Linked DNA regions of Homo sapiens: region 2 is linked to region 1. Evidence: fine-mapped expression QTL. A gene starts in region 1. The other region holds a variant in brackets. All regions are shown on one strand. Distances are between the middles of the regions. Region 1 holds the start of BRD7 (bromodomain containing 7). Region 2 overlaps BRD7 (bromodomain containing 7).

Evidence for each region.
Region 2: its variant is fine-mapped to the expression of BRD7 in whole blood (INTERVAL, PIP above 0.99).

The regions. Positions count from the first base shown.
Region 1 is chr16:50,365,683-50,382,738 of GRCh38, forward strand. BRD7 (bromodomain containing 7) reads right to left here and starts at 3,306. Exons shown (of 17, transcript NM_013263.5): 1 at 3,044-3,306; 2 at 2,408-2,616. The coding sequence starts at 3,092. RefSeq lists silencers at 2,695-3,204, 3,235-3,484, 9,056-9,350.
Region 2 is chr16:50,340,602-50,348,601 of GRCh38, forward strand. The region is part of intron 5 of BRD7 (bromodomain containing 7); the gene reads right to left. Among named protein-coding and RNA genes, the nearest start is that of BRD7, 24 kb to the right of the region's middle. The variant T/C (reference allele first, on the strand shown) is at 4,070.

The sequences.
Region 1 (17,056 bases):
TTCTTGGAAATTCAAGGTATAAGATCTGAAATAAATCTGGAAAAGTCAGAAATTTTAGGGATGTTCCCTGAAGGAAGAACCCTCCCCCACCCCACACACACCCAGAAAAAATATGAGAAAAACATAAGAAAATTAGAGGATCAGTTCAGGAGTCTAATATCTAAAGGGCAGGAGTTCCAGAAACCAAGAAAAGAAAAAATGGAGGGAAAGAAATGAACACAGGAATACTTCAAGCACACAGCTCTGAACTGAAGGCACAAGTATTCATTGTGAAATGTCAGAACACTGAAGATAAGGGGGGAAGATCCTAAAAATTTCAAGTTAGCAAATACTGGTCATATGCAAAGGACTAAGAATCAGAATGGCAACAGACTTCTCAACAGCAAATTTAGAAGCCAGAAAACAACAAAGCAATGCCTTCAAAAGTCTGAAAGAAAATAATTTTCAATCTAAACAAGTCAAACCATCAACCTGTATGAGGGCAGAATACAGATTTTCAAACATGTTAGAACTTATAAAATCTACCCCGTGTATGCTTTCTTAGGACGTTCCTAGAGTTAAGAGTCCACCAGAACAAGGGAATGAATCAAGAAAGAGGAAGGCATGAGATCCAGGAAGCAGGTGAAGGAGAGTCCCAGGAGGCCTTGACAGCAACTAATTCAGCCTCCAGGAGACAGAAAGCTGTAAGATAAATGTCTCCAGAGGAAAATAAAAAAGGAAGTAAAGAACTCAAATGAGTTTCATAAATCTTAGAGTTTGGGAAGAATTATTAAGCAATAACCAAACAAATGAAAGCAATGATCTAACTAGTTAAGATCAGATCTATATTTGCATACTATACTTGTCTACAATCACTTTAATATTGATTTAACCAATAATTGTGATGTACCTATACCTTGAGCAAGGGAAACTGAATTCTCATCTTCCATAACATGATGTCAGTAGAAGATATAAACTGCTAAATCAGTAAATAGCAATATAAACCTTTATTTTGAAATAGAAATAAGTAGGCAAGGAAAAATACCTAAAAAGTGTCCAGAGTGGAGCAGCAGCCTGCTTTGTGTCAAAAAGCTGTGTAGTACTCTTGACTTTTAAAAATCATCTTCACGAATTACTTTACTACTATTAATTAAAAAAAACAACTGGTTACCTCTGAAGAGGGAGTCTATGTGAAGGATTGGGGTGAGGAAAACTTTTTCCATTTTGTGTACTTTTGCACCACATGAACTACTTTTAAAAAATCAAATGCATATATGGGTTTTATAATTTAAGGAAGAAAACAAAACATTACTCCTACCTAGCCAAAGGTAATAAAAACTGGGACAAAAGGGAAGGAATAGACTTAAGAAATCCCCAAAATAAGATCTCTAAGACTTGGTGACTTAGCAATGTGTTCAATCACATGGAAGAGAAAGCTCCTCTTGTATATATAAACATAAGAAAAATTACATAACTAACCTATGAAAATTTACCTTCACAATAATTGATGTAATAAGTCGTTCAGTGGCAGGTTAAATTTGGAAAGTTAATAACAGTAATAACAATGTTATTATTATTAGAGACAGAGTCTCGTATTATTGCCCAGGCTGGAGTGCAGTGGTATGATCATACCTCACTGTACCTCAAACTCCTGGGCTCAAGGGATCCTCCCACCTCAGCCTCCTGAATAGCTGGGACACAGGTGCACACCACCAGGCTCTGGAAATTTTTGTAGTTTATTTTGCAGAGGCAGGGCCTTGCTATGTTGCCCAGGCTGGTCTCGAACTTCCAGCCTCAAGCAATCCTCCCACCTCGGCATTCCAAAGTGTTGGGATTACAAGTGTGGGCTACTGGGCCCAGCCATTAATTATTATTTTGCCCAGCTTTCAAACCAAGATGGTAGCTACTCATTCTTTTCTGTTAAATGCAAATGGTTAAGAATATCAATCTCCATTACAGGTTTCTGACCAAATTTTCTCAACACACTACAACACTGTTTTAAAAGATTTAAAGTTGCTCATTACAGATTTGGCATTATAATATTTATTTCAGAACAAACTTTAAACCCCAGTAGATCCCACTCGCTTCTGAAATGACTATTTTTGACAATCCTTGAACACTGAGGCTTTCTTGAGCATGACTTTTTACCCTGCCTAGATGGAAAAACCATTCTTTGAAGCAGCTCCTCAAAATTTGGACTTAGCTGCTTCCTCACCTGATGTGCGAGTACAATTGCCTAAGAGTATAATCCAAAAACGACTTGCTGAAACTCATAGATGATTCATGTCTCTATTCTGTCCTGCTCCTCCTCAAACGAGCCAGATCTTAGAGGCGTTTGTTTTCCCCAGATACAAAGAAAATAAAATGAGGTTGGCACCTGGAAGAGGCAGTGCCGTCCGCAAAGCCAAAGCAATGTAACCACTTGTACCTTAACTCTTCTCCGTTTTCTCCCCTTTTCTTCCCCTGGAATCTGCTTCTCTCCTTTCTTTCTCTTTTTCCGCTTTCTGTCCTTGTGTTTGTCATGATCGTTTTTGTCTTCGAAGAGGCTGGAGTCGTGCCCCGAGCTGCCCGTGGAGAGTTCGGTGACTTCGTTCCCTCCTACTTTGAGGACCAGCTTCAAGGGCTTCTCTACATACTCTTAAAAAAAGAAAAGAAAAGAAAGGAAAGCGCGTCGATTAAAATCGGGGCTCTCCAGGGAGTGCTAAGGATGCAGAGCGCCAAGGCGCAGCAAGCCCGAGGCGGCTTTGGGCGCTCCGCGAAGCACCTGTTGAATGACGGACCCCGGCCCGGGGGTGCGGCGGCGCCGCCCGCCCCGAACGCTCCCAGGCCTCCCGGGCCCGCCTCACGTCTCCCCACCAGAGACCCACCGGACCAGGGGGACCCGGGTTCGAATGCCGCGGCCGCACGGGGGGCAGCGCGGCCTCCGGCAGGACGCGCCCCCTTCGCCGGCCTGGGCCTGCCGTGGGAAGGAAGGGCCCCGGGCCGCCCCGGAGCCACTGGGAAAGAGCGGAAGCCCGGCAGAGCCGCCGAGGGCCCGCCGCCCGCACCCCGGCCCCCTCCTCACCCTCGTAGAGGTGTTTGTCCGACTTGTGCTTCTTGTGCTTCTTGCCCATGTCCGACCGGGCCCCGGTGCCCGCCCCCCGCGCCAGGCCCAGGCCGTGCGGCGCCGCTTCCGGTCCGGGCCAGGCGAGCGGAGGGCGGGAGCGGGGCCCGCGAGACCCCGCGCCGCGAGGCAGGGGGGCGGCGCGCGCCGGGCGGCGCGATGCCCCTCTCGAGAAGACGGCGCGCGAGACCCGGCCGGAGCCCGAGAGCGGCGGCGGGGGGGGCGCGCGGCCGGCGCAGAGGCGGGAAAGAAGGCCCGCCGCGCGCACAGGGTGCCGGCGGCTGCGGGTGGCGGCCCCTGGCGACCGGAGGTGGTGCTGCAGCTCGCGGGCCGGGGGCGGGGCCGAGGGCGGGGCCGGGGCGGGATCCACCGCTCAGACTCTCGTCTTTCTTCCTTCCTCCCTTTCCCCTCAATTTGTCTGTCTTGTCTCTGTCTCTGTGTGTCTCTCCCTCCGTCTCCACTTCCCTCCCTTCTTTTTACTCCCTCCCTCTCTTTCTTTCTCTTTCCCTTCTTCCCTTCCTTCCTCCTTCCTTCCTTTCTTTCTTCCCTCCTTACTGCCTCCCTTCAAGCCTTCCTTCTCTCTTTTCTTCCTCCCTCATCACCCTTCCTTCTCCTCTTCCCGTCTCCTTCCCTCTTTTTTTCTTTTCTTTTTTTCCCCTTCCTCCTTCCCCCACTCTTCCTTTCTTTCCACTTTCCCTTGCTTCTGTTTCTTCCCTTTTACGATATTGACTGAACCCCATACTGGGTGCCAGACCCAGCAAACTCAGCACATTGGTGACTGAAGATTCTAATCTTAAAAAAAACTTATGTGCTGATAGGTGAAGGTTACCAGACGTTTTGACTGTCTTTACTTCTAGCTGTATGGTGCTTTGTCTGTTTTCAGATAAGCTCGTAATTATAGTCTCCTCTTAAGAAAGGATCTGTTATCAGTCATTTATACTTTAGTAACAATTTAGACCCATGAATCACCTCTCCCAGGAAGATTTGTAGCTTTACCTTGAACTTCAGTGGTGAAATTATAGGCTTATATTTTAGGACCCTATTGTTGGCAACTAATAGAAACCAATTTGAATTATTTCAAGTAAATAAAAAGGGATTTATTGGTTTACATGTCTAGAAAGGGCAAGAATAAAGCTTGCCAGAGGGAAGACAGGAACCAAGGATGTAATGCTGTTGACTGGCATGCCAGCTCGCTCTCTCTCTTGTCTCTCTGTATATCGGTCTCCATCTCCCCCCTTCTTTCCTATATGGCTGGAAACATGGCCACCATCTGCTTCTGAGGCCTCTTCTTTATAGTGTCCTGACCAACTGGGAAAAAGATCTCTTCCTGTCAGCTTCACCTGGAAAACAGTCCCAGGGAAGGACTCTGATTGGCTTGGCTTGTGTCACATGTTTTATGGGACAGGGGATGGGAGATTGATTCGGCCTGGATGCCAAATCTACCCCCTCACCCCCTTGGCCAAGAGAAGTGGAGTCTGTGATTGGCAGCTCCTGCCAGACTTCTATGGTTAGCCAGGGAAGATGAGGTTCTTCTAATGAAGAGAGTTGCTTTTTCATGAAAGCTAAAAGTGTGTGTCTATTATTTCCCTGTAACAAGCCTCTCTGGTGTCCGTGAGGCAGAGATCAGGGTGTGGGAAGAGGGGTTGTGTTGGGGAAGAGACCTTCTGCTGCTCTGAAATCAAGCCAGCTAGGCCCCCTAGGCCCCCTAAGCATAGGGCAAAGCTTGGTTTCAGCTTTTCATCCACTGTCTGTAACTTATTTTGCTTTAAGAACCACTATGCCAACTCCCACTGTGGGTCTGGCCTCTATTGTGGCATTGCCTTGCTCCAGGCTCAACCTGTGGGTTTACCTGTCTGCTCCTCATTACCCTGGGTACCTCCTTGGTACTTACAGTGCCTAGCACAGTGACTACTACTGTCCAAATGCCCCTCAGAGGAAAAAGGTCTGGTGAACTCATCCATACTATCAAGTTAGTAATTTCCCTACCCTCTCAAGAGTGATTCTACATAGGTCACAAAGTGGTCACATCAATGGAAAGTGAATAAGAGTACGTAGCAGAAAACACCTCCCAGAAAAATGTTCCTGGAAGTGGAAGCCCAAATTCATCTAGTTTTAAATTCTCAGCACTAATACCATGCCTGGCACATAGAAGGCACCAGAAAATGCTAGTTGAGCTGCACGGTCCTGGTTCGGGCAGACTCCCCTGAGAGATTTCTGCCTGCTGCCATTCATGACCTCCCAGTGAGTGTAGAATGGCCTGGAGACTGGCTTCAGAGCAATAGAATATGGCAAAGATGATGGACGTCACTCCTGTGTTGAGGATACATAAGACTTCAGTCTTACTTGCTGACCGTCTCTCTTGCCTTCTTGGCTTGCATGTTTTGATGAAGTAAGCTGCCATGCTGGAGAAGCCCATGTGACAAAGACCTGAGGCTGGGCCCCAGTTGACATCCGGCTACAACTGAGGCTATCAGTCCAACAGCCTTGAAGGATTGAATCCTGCCAGCAACTGTGTGAGCTTCAAAGTGGATCCTTCCTCAGTGGAACATTCAGATGAGACCTCAGCCCTGGCTGACATCCTGATCACAGCCCTGTGAGAGTCCCAGAAGCAGAGGCCCCAGTTAAGCTGTGCCCAGACTTCTCCCCCAACAGCCCAACAGCTCTTGAGTGAGTGAGACAGAGCTGACTTGAGTCCTGGGGTCACAGATGCTTACAGGGTCTGTGACTTTGGCATGTCCTGAGAGGGCTGCCTACCTCTGAACCTTGGAACCAGGGTGAGGTCATTGGGTGTGCTGCTGCAACAGGGTGGTTGTAAGGATCAAAGAAGATAATGTGGTCAGAGTGCCGAGAGTAATGCCTGATATGGTAGATAGTAAATGGTCAATAAATATCAGCTGCTAATACTAACTTTTAAATATTTGTGAATGTCACTTTCCTGCTCAAAACCATCTTGTGGCTCCCTGTCTCACTCGAAGTCAAAGCCAAATCTGCACCTTGGCTTTCAGGGCCGGATCTGGCCCTCATTCTCTTTCCAGCCCCATCCCCCTGCCCCCTCCTCCCTCCTGCCCCAAGCCCCTGCTTCTCTTCCCTGTGTTCAGAACACTCTCCCCTGAGCTCCTGGAGTGGCTCCTGCCCTCACATCACCTTGGTCTCCCCTGTGACCACCTCAGAGAAGCTTCTGGACCACCAACCCACACACCCCTTCCCCTCTTCCCTCAGCCTGTGCAATGCCTTGTTTCTCTCCATTGCACCTACAGCCTCCAAAATTATGTTGAATATCTCTTCCCTATCTGTGTGCGTGTCCACCATCTGTCCACTGGCTTCCCAGGTCCCCAAGGTTAGGGACTAGGTCTGTCTCACTCCTGGCTGTGTGCCCCGCACTTAGCACAGAGCTGGGCTCAGCACAGGCCCTGGAGAAATATTTGTTGGACAAATGAATACATCATAATTACTGTGTTGTGATAATAATTCTCTTCCTCCTTCCTCCCCTTTCTGGTGGAGACACGAGGTGACTGGAGCCCTCCGGGAGAGTCTGTGGAGGAGAAAGCCTGGCCACTGGGGGGTGTGGCATGCCCAGGAAATCTCTGCGCAGCTCAGCTTGGAGGTGGCCCCTCTTCAGCCTGGCCTCTCTGCTGAGGAGTTGTTGCCCAGGGTGCCTTCAGGCCTTGGTGCTCTGACAGAGAGGACGCTCTGGGACACAGCTGATGTCCTTGCCACCTGACCCTGAGGTAGAGTGTGGCCTTCATTGGTTGGGTGGGATGAGGGCTGGGCGAAACTCAGGGGCCTTGGTTCTGGGACACCCACTGGGAACCCTTTATAGCTATTCCCCTATAGCCAACAAATGAAAGAGGGCTGCTGGGTGCTGACCTATGATCTGGACAGACTAAAAGCCTCAAACATCAGGGGCTTCTGAGCCCCCTCGCCTCTGTTTGGCTGTACTCCTCAAAGCCCCCTTATGCAGCACTGATGCAGGATGGGGAACTCCTGAGACGGAGAGAATCCTTGGGCTACTAACTTCTTCTCCTGCTTTCCTTTGTCTGAATCTCAGTTTTCTCCTCTGAGGGATGGGCAGAGCCAGCCTCATGCAGCCTGTGTGGCTGGCATGAGGGTTAGCAAAAGCAAGGAGTGAGAAATGTTCTGGCACAACACAGGCCTTCCCAAGTGTAATGGGGCAGACGGTGGGTGGGAAAGGGCCGGTTCTCCTGGATACTCCATGGGGATTCCTGCCCTCTGTCCTGGGGTGGGAGGTGGCATCCCCTGAGCCCAGGCTCCCAGCAGCTCCAGCTAGTGCCTCATTTGGCACCAGGAGCAGGTCTGGGCCTTCCTGGTGCCAGCCTGATGCCAGCCTGTGAGTGCTGCTGGGAGAGGCCTCAAGAGGCTGAGGCTGGTTCAGCAGGCAGCTCTGTGGGGAATCAGTGGCCTGGGGTGATTCGCTATGACAGGTTGTTGACAGTGCAGCTTCCAGGGTTGCTCACGGTCACTGGCGGAGCAGCCCCAGCTGCTGCCTCTGAGTGAGGAAAAGAGAGAGGCGGTGGATGGCCGCCATCCACGCAGGCATGCCACATGGCCTCTGCCCACACGGTCTCAGAGCTGCTTACTGGAGGGCAGCGAGCCCAAGCCATGACACTCACGGCTGCCAACCCCAAAAGTCATTTAGCCTCAGAGCCCTTGATCAAATAAGACAGAGGCAACATCAGGACCTTCCTTCCTTCTTTCAGTTCATATTTTCTGTGTGCCTACTATGTGCTGGGGGGTGCTAGGAACACGGTGGGAGTAAAATAGACACAGCCCTGCCCTTATGGAGAGCACAGTGAGATGCATGTTAGACAGAGAACACAGACAAATATTTAATCATGGCCATGCTAACGGTTAGAAAGGAAAACAGCAAGCTGCTGTCCAGATAGTGCTCTGACCCAGGCTGAGGGCTCATCCAGGCCTAACCTGGAGGATAAGTCTTGGTTAGGTGCCCTACAAGTGGAACCTGAGGCGTGGATCTGTTGGGGTGGCAATTGGGGAGAAGCTGGGAGAGAAGCAGGACGGGGTGGGTAGAAGCAGAGAAAGAGGTGGTCCCAGCCTCAGCCCCGTGCCACAGTGGTGGCGGGGCGAGGGGGGATTGGGAACATCAACTGTCCAGGGAACAGTCCCACCCTGTGGGAGGTGGCTGGCCTTTTGTAGCCCATGGTGGGCAGCGAGGTCTGCCTGATTGTCGCCTATTACAGAGGTGACTCTAGTTTGTCCCAGGGCAATTCTCTGAGGGAGGTGTGCGGCTGCCTTCCGTGAGTGGCCAACACTCCCAGCTGCTGGTGATGCCCCTCCAGCAGGATGTGCCTTCAGGAGAGGTGAGCCAAGGGGGCATCAGCTGCATCTACTAAACAGGCAGAGAGGTCAGCATGTGCAAAGGCGAGGGAAAGTTGGGTGCAGTCAGGGAGGAGAGGAGAGCAGGTTTGGAGCAAGAGAGATGATGGGGACTGTGTCTGGAAGAAAGGCTGGGCTGGGCAGAGCTTTTCAAGGCATGGCAGAGATGCTTGATTTTATTTGGGATGCCCATGAAGGCAGTGGACGTGGGTGCATGGCCATATTGGCAATTTAACAAGAGCGCTTTGGCTTCTGAATGAAGGAAGAATTGGAGTGGGTTAGGAGACCGGGCAGAGAGACCAGCTTAGAAGTGATGTGGTCTTCAAAGGGGAGATGGGGGTGGCTTGGTCTAGCGTGGATGATGTGGGGATGGTGCAATGGGATAATTCAAGAGTTATGTAGGAGGAAGAACTTAGGAGGGGTTAGGGATGCCTATGCAGAACCCAAGAGGAGAATCCAAGTAGGAAGGTGAATGCATGTGTCTGGGGCTTGGAAGGGAGGTGAGACCTGAAAATAGATTTTTGGCATAGAGATGTCTTTGGAACCTCAGGAGTGAATGAGACCACCCAGGAGGAGAGAGTAGAGTGATCAGAGAAGATGGAGCCTTGAAGAGCTTCAATATTATCTAACAGGTGAATAAAGGATGAGGAAGCAGCAGAGGAGACTGAGGAGGGGGAGGGAGGCAGGAGGAGAAGCAGGAGAGTAGGACACCCAGCAGGGGAGGACAGAGCACTGGAGCCAGGTGAGGGCAGTGGCGGGCTGAGAGTGTGTAGAGGAAGGAAAGCTCGGCCAGGCTGCAGGGAGCCTCTAAGCACTGGAAGGGCTGGGGGAGGGTGGATCAGACAAGTAGACTTGTGCATGCAAGGCCACTGAGGTGATGCTGGAGAGTGGGAGGTGTGATGAGACAGAGATACAGAAGGGAACACTGAGGCCTTGAATGACAGGCTGTGGGGTGTGGACTTCCCCCTGTAAAGTGGGATAAACCAGATGAAATGGTCACCTTGGAGAAAGCTGGGCATTTTCCAGGAGCCCCAGGCTGGGGACAGACCATGAGCAGCTCAGAAATGATCCTGCAGGCCCGGGCTCCCGGTCCATCATGATTCCTTGGAGTACTGCCCTGCGGACGGGGCCCAGGATTAAATTCCCTTCACAGAAAGTCACTATGTGTTTGATAAACTCTTATCAGACTGTGGCTGTGGGCTTGTGCCATGTCACCCAGATCTCTAATTTCATAGTCCTGGCTCTGCCAAAGACTGGCTGTGAAACCTGGACATGTCTCTCCCCTATCTCCATCTAAACAGGGCTGCAGAAAGAGGAGGAGTCAGTCAGATGCGCTGACTCATGCCTGTAATCCCAGCACTTTTGGAGGCTGAGGTGGGAGGATTGCTCAAGACTGGCTTGGGTGACGTAGCGAGACCCCATTTCTATAAAAAATTAAAAATTAGCCAGGTGTAGTGGTGCATGCCTGTGGTCCCAGCTACTCAGGAGGCTGAGGCAGGAGGATCACTTGAGACCAAGAGGTGAAGGCTGCAGTGAACTATGATTGTGCCACTGCATTCCAGCCTGGGCAACACAGTGAGATCCTGTCTCAAAAACAAAAAAAAAGGTAAAAAGATAAAGAAAGAGGACTCGACTGGCTGCTTTCAAGCTGTTGGTTCTAGGGAAGCACTTCTGACGCTCTGTCAGTGTCTGATAAAGACTTTGTTTTTAAAAATATGTGTGTATTTTAGGTTTTTCTTGATTCAGTTATTTAGTTTTAAACCTATTTATTGCCTAAGTAATTAATGTTTGTTATAGACCAATTGAAAATACAAATAGGTGTAAGGAAGATATTTCAAATTGCTCATAATCTCACCACTTTCTGTAATAGTTTGGTATATGTCATTCCAGATATTCTCCAGTGGTGTTTTTTTTTTTTTTATTAGAGTTTGGTGGTGATTCTTTTCTCCCTGCCTCAGGGGATAGATTCATGATACCCCTTTATTGAGCCTGGCTACTCAAAGATTGGTCCAGGGACGGCTGCATTGGCAGGACCTGGGAGCTTGGTAGAGATGCAGAGTCTCAGGTCCCACCTCAGGATTGTAGAATCGGAATTCACATTTTAAACAAGATTCCTGGGTGATTCATATATGTGTATTAAAGTTTGAGAAGCACTATTCTGGAACATTAGCTTATACTTAGACTTAATTTTCTTGGACAAGAGAAAGGGAACATTTCTGAAGTTGGAACAACTAGACATCAAAAGGAGACCCTTTGACAAAACCAGATAAACTAAAAGGTTCTTTTTTTTTTTTTTTTTTTTTTTAACTCATAAGCCCACAGAAAGATGGAAAATATCTGAGGGACTTTTCATTTACTTTATTTATTCATTTATTTTAGAGATGGGGTCTTGCTGTGTTGCCCAGGCTGGAGTGCAGTGGCTATTCACAGGGGCGATCGTAGTGCAGAACAACCTTGAACTCTTGGGTGCAAGCAATCCTCCTGCCTCAACCTTCCAAGTAGCTGGGACTACAGGCGTGTGCCACTGCACCTGGCGTTTACCCCAATTATTTAAAAAGTTTCTTTTTCTTTCTTTTTTTCTTTTTTTGAGACTGAGTCTCACTCTGTTGCCTAGGCTGGAGTGCAGTGGTGCAATCTCGGCTCACTGCAAGCTCCGCCTCCTGGGTTCATGACATTCTCCTGCCTCAGCCTCCCGAGTAGCTGGGACTATAGGTGCCCGCCACCAAGCCCAGCTAATTTTTCGTATCTTTAGTAGAGACGGGGTTTCAACGTGTTAGCCAGGATGGTCTCGATCTTCTGACCTCCTGACCTCCTGATCTGCCAGCCTCGGCCTCCCAAAAAAGTATTTTTAACTATTAAAAAAGAACAGTGATAGAATGCTAGAACTTATTCCTTCTATCTAGTAATTTTGTATTCATTAACCAACTTTTTTTTGTGTTTGTTTGTTTTTTGTTTTTGTTTTTCCTGTGAAGCTTTTATTTTGGGCAGAGGGCAGGGAGCTCAGTCCTTCCTGGCAGCTGCTTTCTTCATGGCCGCCAGGACGTGGCTCAGCTCCTCTCTCTTCGTCTTGGCATAGATGTGTGTTAAGCAACCTCTTTCTATCTGCCTTCCCTATTCTTCCCAGCCTCCAGTTACTACCCTACTTCCTGCTCTAGCCTACCCTCTACTTCCATGAGATCAACTCCTTTAGCTTCCACATATGAGTGAGGGCAAAGGATTTAGCCTTTAATCCTGCAGTATTTCTCTTTCTGTGCCTGGCTTATTTCACTTAATGTCGTGTCTTCCAGGTCACCCATGTTATTTCAAACAACAGGATTTCCTTCTTTTTTTAAGGCTGAGTAGTATTCCACTGTGTATTTGCTTTATCCATTCGTCTGCTGATGGATATTTAGCTAGATAGGAGGAATACATTTTAGTGTTCTTTGGCACTGTAGGGTGACTATAGTTAATAATAATTTATTGTATATTTCAAATAGCTAGAAAAGAAGATTTTGAATGTTTTCAACACAAAGAAATAATAAATGTGTAAGGTGATGGATGTGCTAATTACTCTGATTTGATCATTACACATTGCATATATGTATCAAAATATCACTCTGTACCCCATAAATATGTATAATTATTATGTATCAATTATAAATAATTTTTAAAAAGTGATTGAAAACCTCCCACACATGCAAATATATAATAAAATTTTATACATTGGAAATGAATAACACATTGACATTTGGGTCTTCATTGATTGTAAAAAGTAAATGTTAAGAACTTTTTTTTTCTTTTTTTTTTTTTTAAGATGGAGTCTCACTCTGTCTCCTAGGCTGGAGTACAGTGGCATGATCTTGGCTCACTGCAACCTCCGCCTCCCAGGTTCAAGTGAGTCTCCTGCCTCAGCCTCCCGAGTAGCTGGGTTTACAGGCATGCACCACCACACCCAGCTAATTCTTGTATTTTCAGTAGCGACAGGGTTTCCCCATGTTGGCCAGGCTGGTCTCGAACTCCTGACCTTAGGTGATCCACCTGCCTTGGCCTCCTGAAGTGCTAGGACTACAGACGTGAGCCACTGTGCCCAGCCAAATGTTAAGAACTTTTAACGTAAAAGATAAAACACATTTGCACTAACAAGCTACTGCTTTTATTTCTCACACATAGGCATTCTGCTTAAAACTTCATTTGAAACAAGAAGCTGCTGAAAATCTTTGAAAACCACTCAGTGATAGGACTTCCAGGGGCCCTTCCACGGCTCTGTAATTCGGTTAGATAAAACATTATAATGATCAGATGTTTTTATTTTTAAAATACACATCTTTTAGCAGACCATAAAGCCACACACAGATTAGTTGAGCTTGTTGTGTGGCTGGATAAAGTCAGCTGGAACTTGATTTAGGGGAAGAACACTGAACTGGAGATCACAAAGCCTGGTTCTCATTCTTGCATTGCTTGGCCTCCATGTGACAGTCAGAAACCCATCCCTAATGAGGTTGAGCTTCAGGTGTGGCTATATCCAGGTGCTCAAATGATGTCCCCAAGATTCAGGCTTTCTCTCTCTCTGGTCTACTTCCTTCTGCCCTGGTCCCATCCTCAGACAGGCTCCATTGGCCTCTAGAAGCTCCCAGATGATATCCTCATAGATCCCAGTCCAGAAAAAAAGGGAATGTGCCTTTCCCCAGTGGCCCATCAAAAGTCACAGGGCTATGTGATTGGACTGGTTTATATCATGTACCCACCTAGAGCCTATGACCATGAAGGGGTGGGATGTGGGTGGAGGGTGGTCAAGGTGGTGGCAGAATTCAGGGACAAGTGAATCCTAGACCATGGGTCTTCTAACCCAGGAGCTTGGGAGGGAGACGAGTGCCACCTAAACCACATGGCCTAAGTAAGTTGGGATCCCTTAGAAAAATTAGGGTACTGTGACCAGAGGATTGGAGAATGGATGCTGTACCCAAAGTAACCAAGCATTAAACAAAACAAAACAAAACAAAACAAAACAAAACAAACACCTGTTTCTAAACTCAGTTTCTCTACCTGCCTTGAGAATGAGCAGGTTGTGAGGGCCCAATGAGAGGAGGAAGTAAATGATGAGCACTGTTACCTGTTACTTGGAGCCCTATTACTGAGGGGAGCCCCGAGCCCAATTACTCAGAGCCCTGTTACTTGGCGCTGACAGGAGCCCCGAGGCACCTTGCTGCTAACAAACATAACACGCTTCACAAAATGTTCACCCTGTCCCCCATGAGACTGGTCACTGATAAAGAACTGGTAGAAAGGTTCTTTCCTACAAATCCAATTCCAGTCGGCTTGGCTGATGCTTGGCCTGCTCCTCAGAGAGGCAAACATGCCCATTTGCTGGGGAAATGCAACCCAGGGGCGTTTTCTCCTCCTCTCTCTACTGTGATCTTGCCTTTCAGAGCCAGTAGGGGTTCAGACTTGGAGTTGCTGACATTGTCAGCCCCGGAAGAAAAGTTGTGAGGCTCAGCCAGATCTATTTATGCCAGATTTTACAACATCATTGAATTATTTGCACTCAGAACTGCTGATGTTCTGTTGTTATTGTTGTTTAAGTCTACACATAGGCATTTTGGAAGGCACCAATGAATGGGCATCTCTTTATAGTTTCTGAGGCAGAAAAAGGAAAAACTTTTTTCTCCCCTTTATTTAGGAGAAAAGTGAGTGGAGTGGGGAATACAGCCTTCTCCTTCCTGCCTGCCTGTCCCTCTTTCACCTGGGGTAAAATCTGCTTCTGAAAGCCTCCCCAGAGCCCGCTATGAGGAAGGAATAGCCCCTCATCTGTGCACCCTGGCTATTGACTCAGCAAGAGCTGCCATATTTCCTGGCTTCCACTCTGCTCCGCCATAAATCCACTTTCCCCACCACAGCCAGAGTGACTTTGAAATACACAGATTTCCGGGCCAGGGGCAGTGGCTCACACCTGTAATCCCAGCACTTTGGGAGGCCAAGGTAGGAGGACCAGGAGTTTGAGACCAACCTGGGCAAGATAGTGAGAACCCCATCTCTGTTAAAAACAAAACACATGGATTTTTCTGTGGGTGGTGGTACGTTACAAAAATAAAAACAAAAACATAGATTATAGATTGGATTAGGCCACATCATCGTCCTGTTCATAACCCTTTGGGGGGTCTCCCATCTCAGATCAAGCCCAAGCTTTTTTCCTAAGCCTACAAGGCTCAGTGTAACCTGACCTCGTGCTCTTCTCTGACCCCGATTTCTGCCACTGCCTACTTCTACCCACTAATCTCCAGACATAATTTGCCTAATCTTAGTCCCTTGAACATGCCACACTCTTCCTCCATGCAGGCCTTTCACACATGCTATTCCCTTATTCTGGAATGCTGTTCCCACACTCTTCATATGGCTGGCCTCTTCTCATCTCTCACCACCTCAGAAAGGCAACCCTAAACTGCTCCAACAAGTCCCCTTTTAGTTTCTGTCTTTATTTATATATATATTTTGAGATGGAGTTTTGCTTTTGTCGCCCAGGCTGGAGTTCAGGTGCGAGATCTCAGATCACTGCAACCTCCACTTCCTAGTTTCAAGGGATTCTCCTGCCCCAGCCTCCCGAGTAGCTGAGATTACAGGTGCTCACCACCACACCCAGCTAATTTTTTGTGTTTTTGGTAGAGACGGGGTTTCGCCATGTTGGCCAGGCTGGTCTTGAACTCCTGACCTCAGGTTATCCACCTGCCTCGGCCTCCCAGAGTGCTGGGATTACAGGCGTGAGCCACTGCACCCGGACCTCTTTTAGTTTCTCTTATAGCACCCTGTGGTTTTTCTGTTTCTGATAAAACACATCACATTTGCAATTCCGTATTTATTTGTCTATTGTCTGCCTTCCCATAAGACTGAGAACTTCCTGAGGGCAAGAGCTGAGTCTATTCTGTTTTGTTCACTGGCACTTGACATGTACCTAATACATTTTTGTTGCCCAAATGATTAGACGGTTGAAGTCCTCTCTTGTGGAAGGCAGGACTTCCTTCTGTGTTCTTCCTTCTGGCAGTGACTTATTTCTCCTCCCAGGAGGGGATTGGAGAGAGGAGGTTTTGTCATGCTTCCCTCTGTCCCCCTCAAGGCACTCAACATGGTATTTGGCCCACCATGGGAGCCCAGTGGAGGATGATGAATGAATTCACATTAAATATGTTCTTCCTCTTCCCCCCAACTGCACAGCCAGCTACTCCTGGGAGAGGCATAAATAGTGACCTACAGGCCGGCTGCAGTGGCCCACACCTGTAATCCCAGCACTTTGGGAGGCCTAGGTTGGTGGATTACTGGAGGCCGGGAGTTGGAGATCAGCCTGGCCAACACGGGGAAACTCTGTCTCTACTAAAAATACAAAAATTAGCCAGGCATGGTGGCACATGCCTGTAATCCCAGCTTCTTGGGACGCTGAGGCACAAGAATTGCTTGAACCCTGGAGGTGGGGGTCTCAGTGAGCCAAGATTGTGCCACTGTGCTCCAGTCTGGGCAACAGAGCAAGACCGCCTCAAACAAAAATAAGTGACCTACACCATGAGACTTTGGAGTTGTCAAGCCTTTGCAAAATCTCAAACTCTCTCTTCTACTGATGTGAGTACTGTAGTGCCTGAGAGTCCATTACAACAGAGCAAGGGCAAGGTCTAAGAATCATCTTCCAAGGTCAGCACACCTGGAAGGGGTATTGCCTGAACTGAGCCTGGTAATTTCCTCCTGGGATGGGGAGGGTGGGGAGGGTGGAGAACACAGTGACAGCGCCCCCTGCCCCAGGCTTTCACTTCACCAGATATCCATTAAGCACAGTGATTGTTAGGGTCCACAGGGACTTCAGATACAAACAAGACACAGCCCCTAACCTCAGGAGGCTCAGGGTTTGGTGGAATAGACGCGTGACTTGCCCCCTTTCTGCCGTATGACACTTTGGGCTCGTTACTTGAAAGCCTTGGCTTCCTCATCTGTAAAATGGGGTTATAAATGTACCAATCTCATTGGTGATAATTCATTGAGTTGATGCATAAAAATGCTTAGGACAGGGCCAGGCTCAATAAGGGTGAGTAGTCAGTGTTATTATCTGCCATGCCTCAGGCAAGGTACAGAGTTTCCCCAAGGCTACTTGACCTCTTCCTGTTTACCCTGCCTCCTGGCCAGCTGCCCTCTGGTGGTAACTGTGCAGAGTGGTCGCCTGCCTCTGGCACCTGTCTGATCTGCCCCGGTCCTGCTGACCCCTCCTGTGGGCCTTTTGGTTGTCTGGACTCTTGGTATGTCCCAGGCCTTCCCTTTTTGCTAGGTTTCCAAGGCTGCTCTTCTGCGTCAGCAGGTTTCTCAGGCTTTTCAGACCCAAGTGACCATCTTGGGACATAGGCAGAGAGAAGCCTTGATGTTACTAGTTATTTCTGCCCATTGGGCACCAAATAAACACTTTCTCTAGCAACAGCCTCTTGACTTCCACTTAGAGAGCCTCCTCTCCCCACATGACCTAAGCCTGCCAATGAGAGTGTCACAGCCGCGAGGGCCAGTGAGGATTGGTTCAGGGGTGAGCATGTGACCCAGGCCTGCCAGTGAGAGTATCACAGCTGCCAGGACCAATGATTGGTTCAGAGGTGGGCCTGTGACTGGAATCTGGTTAATGAG
Region 2 (8,000 bases), 30 kb before region 1:
AAAAATGTTAAAACATTTACACTACTTTTATGTGTTTGGATACTATCATAAACTAAACATAATTTGCAGAATGTTGCAAAACCATGCCAATGTGAAATAAACCATACAACCTCAAGGAGTTAAAACATGTAACTGGAGTAGCCAAATTACCAAAACTGTCTTTTTGGCTTAAATTTCCAAGTCCGCTATGTGCTGGAGAACTTGACCCCACTGCATGCTTTCATAGTTAAGTAATTTTTACATCTATAAATGTGCGATTCATTATGCCAAGGCCTTACTAAGTTGAAAGAAAAACCCAAGAAAAGAGAATCTGCCCCCTACAAATTTGTTTAAAAAACAAAAAAAATTCAAATTCCACTATTTAATAGTGATGACAGGTTAGAACACTTAAATAGAACAAAAATAAGTAGACTGAGTTCTATGTACAAGTACGTAAGACTGAGTGAAGGGTCGCAATAAATTTGGTATTAAAGTGGATGAAGTATATGTGGATCTTCAGTTTGGGCCATGACTGTAAATATGCCAGGTCTTGGATCTCTAAGCATCTGATGAAAGCTATGGGACCAGACCTTAAGTACACACACACACACACACACACACACACACACACACACACACAGCTGAACACAAAAGTCTTCATGTAATTTTAGTAGGTTCTTGGTCCCTCTAAAGGCTCATTATGGTATCCAAAGGACCCTAGATTAAAGACCTTTGTTACAGATATTTGGAAAAGCTTCCAGGCCATTAAGAATTACTAGGCTGGGCATAGTGGCTCACCCTTATAATTCTAGCACTTTGGGAGGCCGAGGCAGGTGGACTGCTTGAGCCCAGGAGTTTGAGACTGGTCAGGGCAACATGGTGAAACCCCGTCTCTACTAAAAATACAAAAAAATTAGCTGGGTGTGGTGACACACCCCTGTAGTCCCAGCTACTTGGGAGGCTGAGGCACAACAATTGCTTGAACCCTGAACGTGGAGGTTGCAGTGAGCCAAGATCATGCCACTGCACTCCAGCCTGAGCAACAGAGTGAGACTCGGTCTCAAAAAAAAAAAAAAAAAATTAAATATGTATTTGGGGGGATGGGACGCAAGTGAACGGAGATACTAGATTACTATATATACTCAAACTAAGTGACCATTTGGCCTATAATTGGCCAGATAATGGGCCTATGAACTGGCAAGAGTACTGAATTGTTCTAATGAACACAGGACTGATCTATTAAGCCAATTTGTAGATTCCTTAAATCTTAACATAATGTGCTGGGCTTTACTGAACTGTGGGTGATGGCACTGGTCATTCAAAAAGCTGAGTCTTCCTGCACACTTTTCACACACACACACACACACACACACACACACACACACACATTTTACTTCAACTGCCAAATGAACTGAATAAATATTACTTTAGGCCGTTGAGCTTTCCCTAGAAAAAAGTGGCAACGTAGAAATTCTAAAGAGCTAAGATACCAATTCCTTTCAATTATGATAAACCCTAACCTGCTTAAAAACACTCTGGGGACACACTTCTACTCTTCTTACTGTAAGAGAAAGATCAGAGGAAAATCATGCAGAAAAAAAACAAAAAACAAAAAACTGTGAAATTCTTTCCCATTAAGCAATGGTAAGGTCAGAAATATGCTGAAATAAACGGTTTTAGCCTAATTTTCACCAGATAAAAAGTTGGGAAAAGTTTCTATTTCTCGAAATAAGAGAGAATGTAATTCAGATTCTTTGGAGAAAGTGGAATATTACCTATAAACTCAACAGTAAAGAGCACTAAACACTGATATTCTTCATAAATCTCTGCTTATCAATATGTGGATGAAAAAAGGGACTAAGTAAAGACACTGTCTTTTTTTTTTTTTTTTTTTTTGAGATGGAGTCTCACTCTGTCGCAAGCTCTGCCTCCTGGGTTCACGCCATTCTCCGGCCTCAGCCTCCCGAGTAGCTGGGACTACAGGCATCCGCCACCACACTCAGCCAATTTTTTTGTATTTTCAGTAGAGACGGGGTTTCACTGTGTTACCCAGGATGGTCTTGATCTCCTGACCTTGTGATCCACCTGCCTCGGCCTCCGGAAGTGCTGGGATTACAGGTGTAAGCCACCACACCTGGCCATAAAGACACTATCTTATTTTATTTTTAGGAAAATAACTAATTAGGGTAACCAATTAGGGTCTAACCCTTATAGGTCAGGTGAGCACTACTGTGGTTATGTAAAACAAAGTAGAGGTAAAACAGATATTATCTAAACCAATTAAGTTTGTGGCGGTTGAATACATAGTAAATTTTAATATACATGGTTCCTTTCCCTGGAATCAACACACACCAGGACACTCCCTCAAATGGGAAAAACCTCATCTATAATAGGTATATATATTATAAGTTTTCAGGTCCTTGTAAATTTTCTATACTCTTCTTAAAGCTGAAGAAAATATGCTCAACAAATATAGCCAAAATGAACTCAGAGAGCAATTAACTTTCATCAAATTAGAAAATGTAATTAAACTTCTCTTTAGTATTTCTGGACAAGCCAATTTATTCTTTACTTTAGAGTACATGTGATATGGTTTGGCTCTCTGTCCCCACCCCAATCTCATGTTGAATTGTAATCCCCAATGTTGGGGGAAGGACCTGGTGGGAGGTGATTTGATCATGGAGGCAGATATCCCCCTTGCTGTTCTTGTGATAATGAGTCCTCACAAGATCTGGTTGTTTGAAAGTGTGTAGTGATAGGTTCCAAGGTGGCCGAATAGGAACAGATCCAGTCTACAGCTCCCAGCATGAGTGATGCAGAAGACTGGTGATTTCTGCATTTCCAACTGAGGTACTGGGTTCATCTCACTGGGGCTTGTCGGACAGTGGGTGCAGCCCACAGAGTGTGAGCCGAAGCAGGGCAGGGAATCACCTCACTCAGGAAGCACAAGGGGTTGGGGAATTCCCTTTCCTAGCCAAGGGAAGCTGTGACAGACTGTACCTGGAAAATCAGGACACTCCCACCCTAATACTGTGCTTTTCCAATGGTCTTTGCAAATGGCACACCAGATTATATCCCGCGCATGGCTCAGAGGGTCCCATGCCCACGGAGCCTCACTCACTGTTAGCACAGCAGTCTGAGATTGAACTGCAAGGCAGCAGTGAGGCTGGGGGAGGGGCGCCCACCACTGCTGAGGCTTGAGTAGGTAAACAAAGCCACCGGGAAGCTCGAACTGGGTGGAGCCTACCTCTGGGGGCAGGGCATAGCTGAACAAAAGGCAGCAGAAACTTCTGCAGACTTAAACGTCCCTGTCTGACAGCTTTGAAGAGAGTAGTGGTTCTGCCAGCATGGAGTTTGAGATCTGAGAACGGACAGACTACCTCCTGAAGTGAGTCCCTGACCCCCGAGTAGCCTAACTGGGAGGCACCTCCCTGTAGGGGCCAACTGACACCTCATACAGCTGGGTGCCCCTCTGAGATGAAGCTTCCAGAGGAAGGATCGGGCAGCAACATGTACCATTCTGCAATATTTGCTGTTCTGCAGCCTCTGCTGGTGATACCCAAACAGGGTCTGGAGTAGACCCCCAGCAAACTCCAACAGACCTGCAGCTGAGGGTCCTGACTGTTAGAAGAAAAACTAACAAATAGAAAGGACATCCGCACCAAAACTCCATCTGTATGTCACCATCATCAAAGACCAAAGGTACATAAAACCACAAAGACGGGGAGAAACCAGAGCGGAAAAGCTGAAAATTCTACAAATCAGAGCACCTCTTCTCCTCCAAAGGAACGCAGCTCCTTGCCAGCAACGGAACAAAGCTGGAGGGAGAAAGACTTTGATGAGTTGAGAGAAGAATGCTTCAGACGATCAGTAATAACAAACTTCTCTGAGCTCAAGGAAGATGTTTGAACCCATTGCAAAGAAGCTAAAAACCTTGAAAAAAGATTAGACGAATGGCTAACTACATTAAATAGGGTAGAGAAGACCTTAACTGACCTGATGGAGCTGAAAATCATGGCACGAGGACTACGTGATGCATGCACAAGTTTCAGTAGCCGATTTGATCAAGTGGAAGAAAGGGTATCAATGA[T/C]TGAAGATCAAATGAATGAAATGAAGCAAAAAGAGAAGTTTAGAGGAAAAGGAGTGAAAAGAAATGAACAAAGCCTCCAAGAAATATTGGACTATGTGAAAAGGCCAAATCTACATCTGATTGGTGTACCTGAAAGTGATGGGGAGAATGGAACCAAGTTGGAAAACACTCTTCAGGATATTATCCAGGAGAACTTCCCCAACCTAGCAAGGCAGGCCAATATTCAAATTCAGGAAATACAGAGAATGCCACAAAGATACTCCTCGAGAAGAGCAACTCCAAGACACATAATTGTCAGATTCACCAAAGTTGAAATGAAGGAAAAAATGTTAAGGGCAGCCAGAGAGAAAGGTCAGGTTACCCACCAAAGGGAAGCCCATCAGACTAACAGCAGATCTCTCAGCAGAAACCCTATAAGCCAGAAGAGAGTGGGAGCCAATATTCAACATTCTTAAAGAAAAGAATTTTCAACCCAGAATTTCATATCCAGCCAAACTAAGCTTCATAAGTGAAGGAGAAATAAAATCTTTTACAGACAAACAAATGCTGACAGATTTTGTCATCACCAGGCCTGTCTTACAAGAGCTTCTGAAGGAAGCACTAAACGTGGAAAGGAATAACCAGTACCAGCCACTGCAAAAACAGGCCAAATTGTAAAGACCATCAAGGCTAGAAAGAAACTGCATCAACTAACGAGCAAAATAACCAGCTAACATCATAATGACAGGATCAAATTCACACATAACAATATTAACCTTAAATGTAAATGGGCTAAATGCTCCAATTAAAAGACACAGACTAGCAAATTGGATAAAGAGTCAAGACCCATCAGTGTGCTGTATTCAGGAAACCCATCTCATGTGCAGAGACACACATAGGCTCAAAATAAAGGGATGGAGGAAGATCTACCAAGCAAATGGAAAACAGAAAAAGGCAGGGGTTGCAATCCTAGTCTCTGATAAAACAGACTTTAAACCAACAAAGATCAAAAGAGACAAAGAAGGCCATTACATAATGGTAAAGGGATCAATTCAACAAGAAGAGCTAACTATCCTAAATATATATGCACCCAATACAGGAGCACCCAGATTCATAAAGCAAGTCCTGAGTTACCTAAAAAGAGACTTAGACTCACACGCAATAATAATGCAAAACTTTAACACCCCACTGTCAACATTAGACAGATCGACGAGACAGAAAGTTAACAAGGATATCCAGGAATTGAACTCAGCTCTGCACCAAGCAGACCTAATAGACATCTACAGAACTCTCCACCCTAAATCAACAGAATATACATTCTTCTCAGCACCACACTGCACTTATTCCAAAATTGACCACACAGTTGGAAGTAAAGCACTCCTCAGTAAATGTAAAAGAACAGAAATTATAACAAACTGTCTCTCAGACCACAGTGCAATCAAACTAGAACTCAGGATTAAGAAACTCACTCAAAACCGCTCAACTACATGGAAACTGAACAACCTGCTCCTGAATGACTACCAGGTACATAACGAAATGAAGGCAGAAATAAAGATGTTCTTTGAAACCAATGAGAACAAACACACAACATACCAGAATCTCTGGGACACATTTAAAGCAGTGTGTAGAGGGAAATTTATAGCACTAAATGCCCACAAGAGAAGGCAGGAAAGATCTAAAATTGATACCCTAACATCACAATTAAAAAAATTAGAGAAGCAAGAGCAAACACATTCAAAACCTAGCAGAAGGCAAGAAATAACTAAGATCAGAGCAGAACTGAAGGAGATAGAGATACAAAAAACCCTTCAAAAAAATCAATGAATCCAGGAACTGGTTTTTTGAAAAGATCAACAAAATTGATAGACCACTAGCAAGACTAAGAAGAAAACAGAGAAGAATCAAATAGATGCAATAAAAAATGATAAAGGGGATATCGCCACTGATCCCACAGAAATAGAAACTACCATCAGAGAATACTATAAACACCTCCATGCAAATAAACTAGAAAATCTAGAAGAAATGGATAAATTCCTGGATACATACACCCTCCCAAGACTAAACCAGGAAGAAGCTGAATCCCTGAATAGACCAATAAGAGGCTCTGAAATTGAGGCAATAGCCTACCAACCAAAAAAAGTCCAAGACTAGATGGATTCACAGCCAAATTCTACCAGAGGTACAAAGAGGAGCTGGTACTATTCCTTCTGAAACTATTCCAATCAATAGAAAAAGAGGGAATCCTCCCTAACTCATTTTATGAGGCCAGCATCATCCTGATACCAAAGCCTGGTAGAGACACAACAAAAAAAGAGAATTTTAGACCAATATCCCTGATGAACATCGATGCAAAAATCCTCAATAAAATACTGGCAAACCAAATCCAGCAGCACATCAAAAAGCTTATCCACCACGATCAAGTTGGCTTCATCCCTGGGAGGCAAGGCTGGTTCAATATATGCAAATCAATAAACGTAATCCAGCATATAAACAGAACCAAAGACAAAAACCACATGATTATCTCAATAGATGCAGAAAAGGCCTTTGACAAAATTCAACAGCCCTTCATGCTAAAACCTCTCAATAAACTAGGTATTGATAGGACATATCTCAAAATAATAAGAGCTATTTATGACAAAACCACAGCCAATATCATACCGAAAGGCAAAAACTGGAAGCATTCCCTTTGAAAACTGGCACAAGACAGGGATGACCTCTCTCACCACTCCTATTTAACATAGTGTTGGAAGTTCTGGCCAGGGCAATCAGGCAGGAGAAAGAAATAAAGGGTATTCAATTAGGAAAAGAGGAAGTCAAATTGTCCCTGTTTGCAGATGACATGATTGTATATTTAGAAAACCCCATCGTCTCAGCCCAAAATCTCCTTAAGCTGATAAGCAACTTCAGCAAAGTCTCAGGATACAAAATCAATGTACAAAAATCACAAGCATTCCTATACACCAATAACAGACAAACAGAGAGCCAAATCATGAGTGAAATCCCATTCACAATTGCTTCAAAGAGAATAAAATAGCTAGGAATCCAACTCACAAGGGATGTGAAGGACCTCTTCAAGGAGAACTATAAACCACTGCTCAATGAAATAAAAGAGGATACAAACAAATGGAAGAACATTCCATGCTCATGGGTAGGAAGAATCAATATCGTGAAAATGGCCATAGTGCCCAAGGTAATTTATAGATTCAATGCCATCCCCATCAAGCTACCAATGACTTTCTTCACAGAATTGGAAAAAACTACTTTAAAGTTCATATGGAACCAAAAAAGAGCCTGCATTGCCAAGTCAATCCTAAGCCAAAAGAACAAAGCTGGAGGCATCACACTACCTGACTTCAAACTATACTACAAGACTACAGTAACCAAAACAGCATGGTACTGGTACCAAAACAGAGACAGAGAACAATGGAACAGAACAGAGCACTCAGAAATAATAACACACATCTACAACCATCTGATCTTTGACAAACCTGACAAAAACAAGAAAGGGAGAAAGAATTCCCTATTTAATAAATGGTGCTGGGAAAACTGGCTAGCCATATGTAGAAAGCTGAAACTGGATCCCTTCCTTACACCTTATACAAAAATTAATTCAAGATGGATTAGAGACTTAAATGTTAGACCTAAAACCATAAAAACCCTAGAAGAAAACCTAGGCTATACCATTCAGGACATAGGCATGGGCAAGGACTTCATGACTAAAACACCAAAAGCAATGGCAACAAAAGCCAAAATTGACAAATGGGATCTCATTAAACTAAAGAGCTTCTGCACAGCAAAAGAAACTACCATCAGAGTGAACAGGCAACCTACAGAATGGGAGAAAATTTTCACAGTCTATCCATCTGACAAAGGGCTAATATCCAGAATCTACAAAGAACTTAAACAAATCTACAAGAAAAAATCAAACAACCCCATCAAAAAGTGGGCAAAG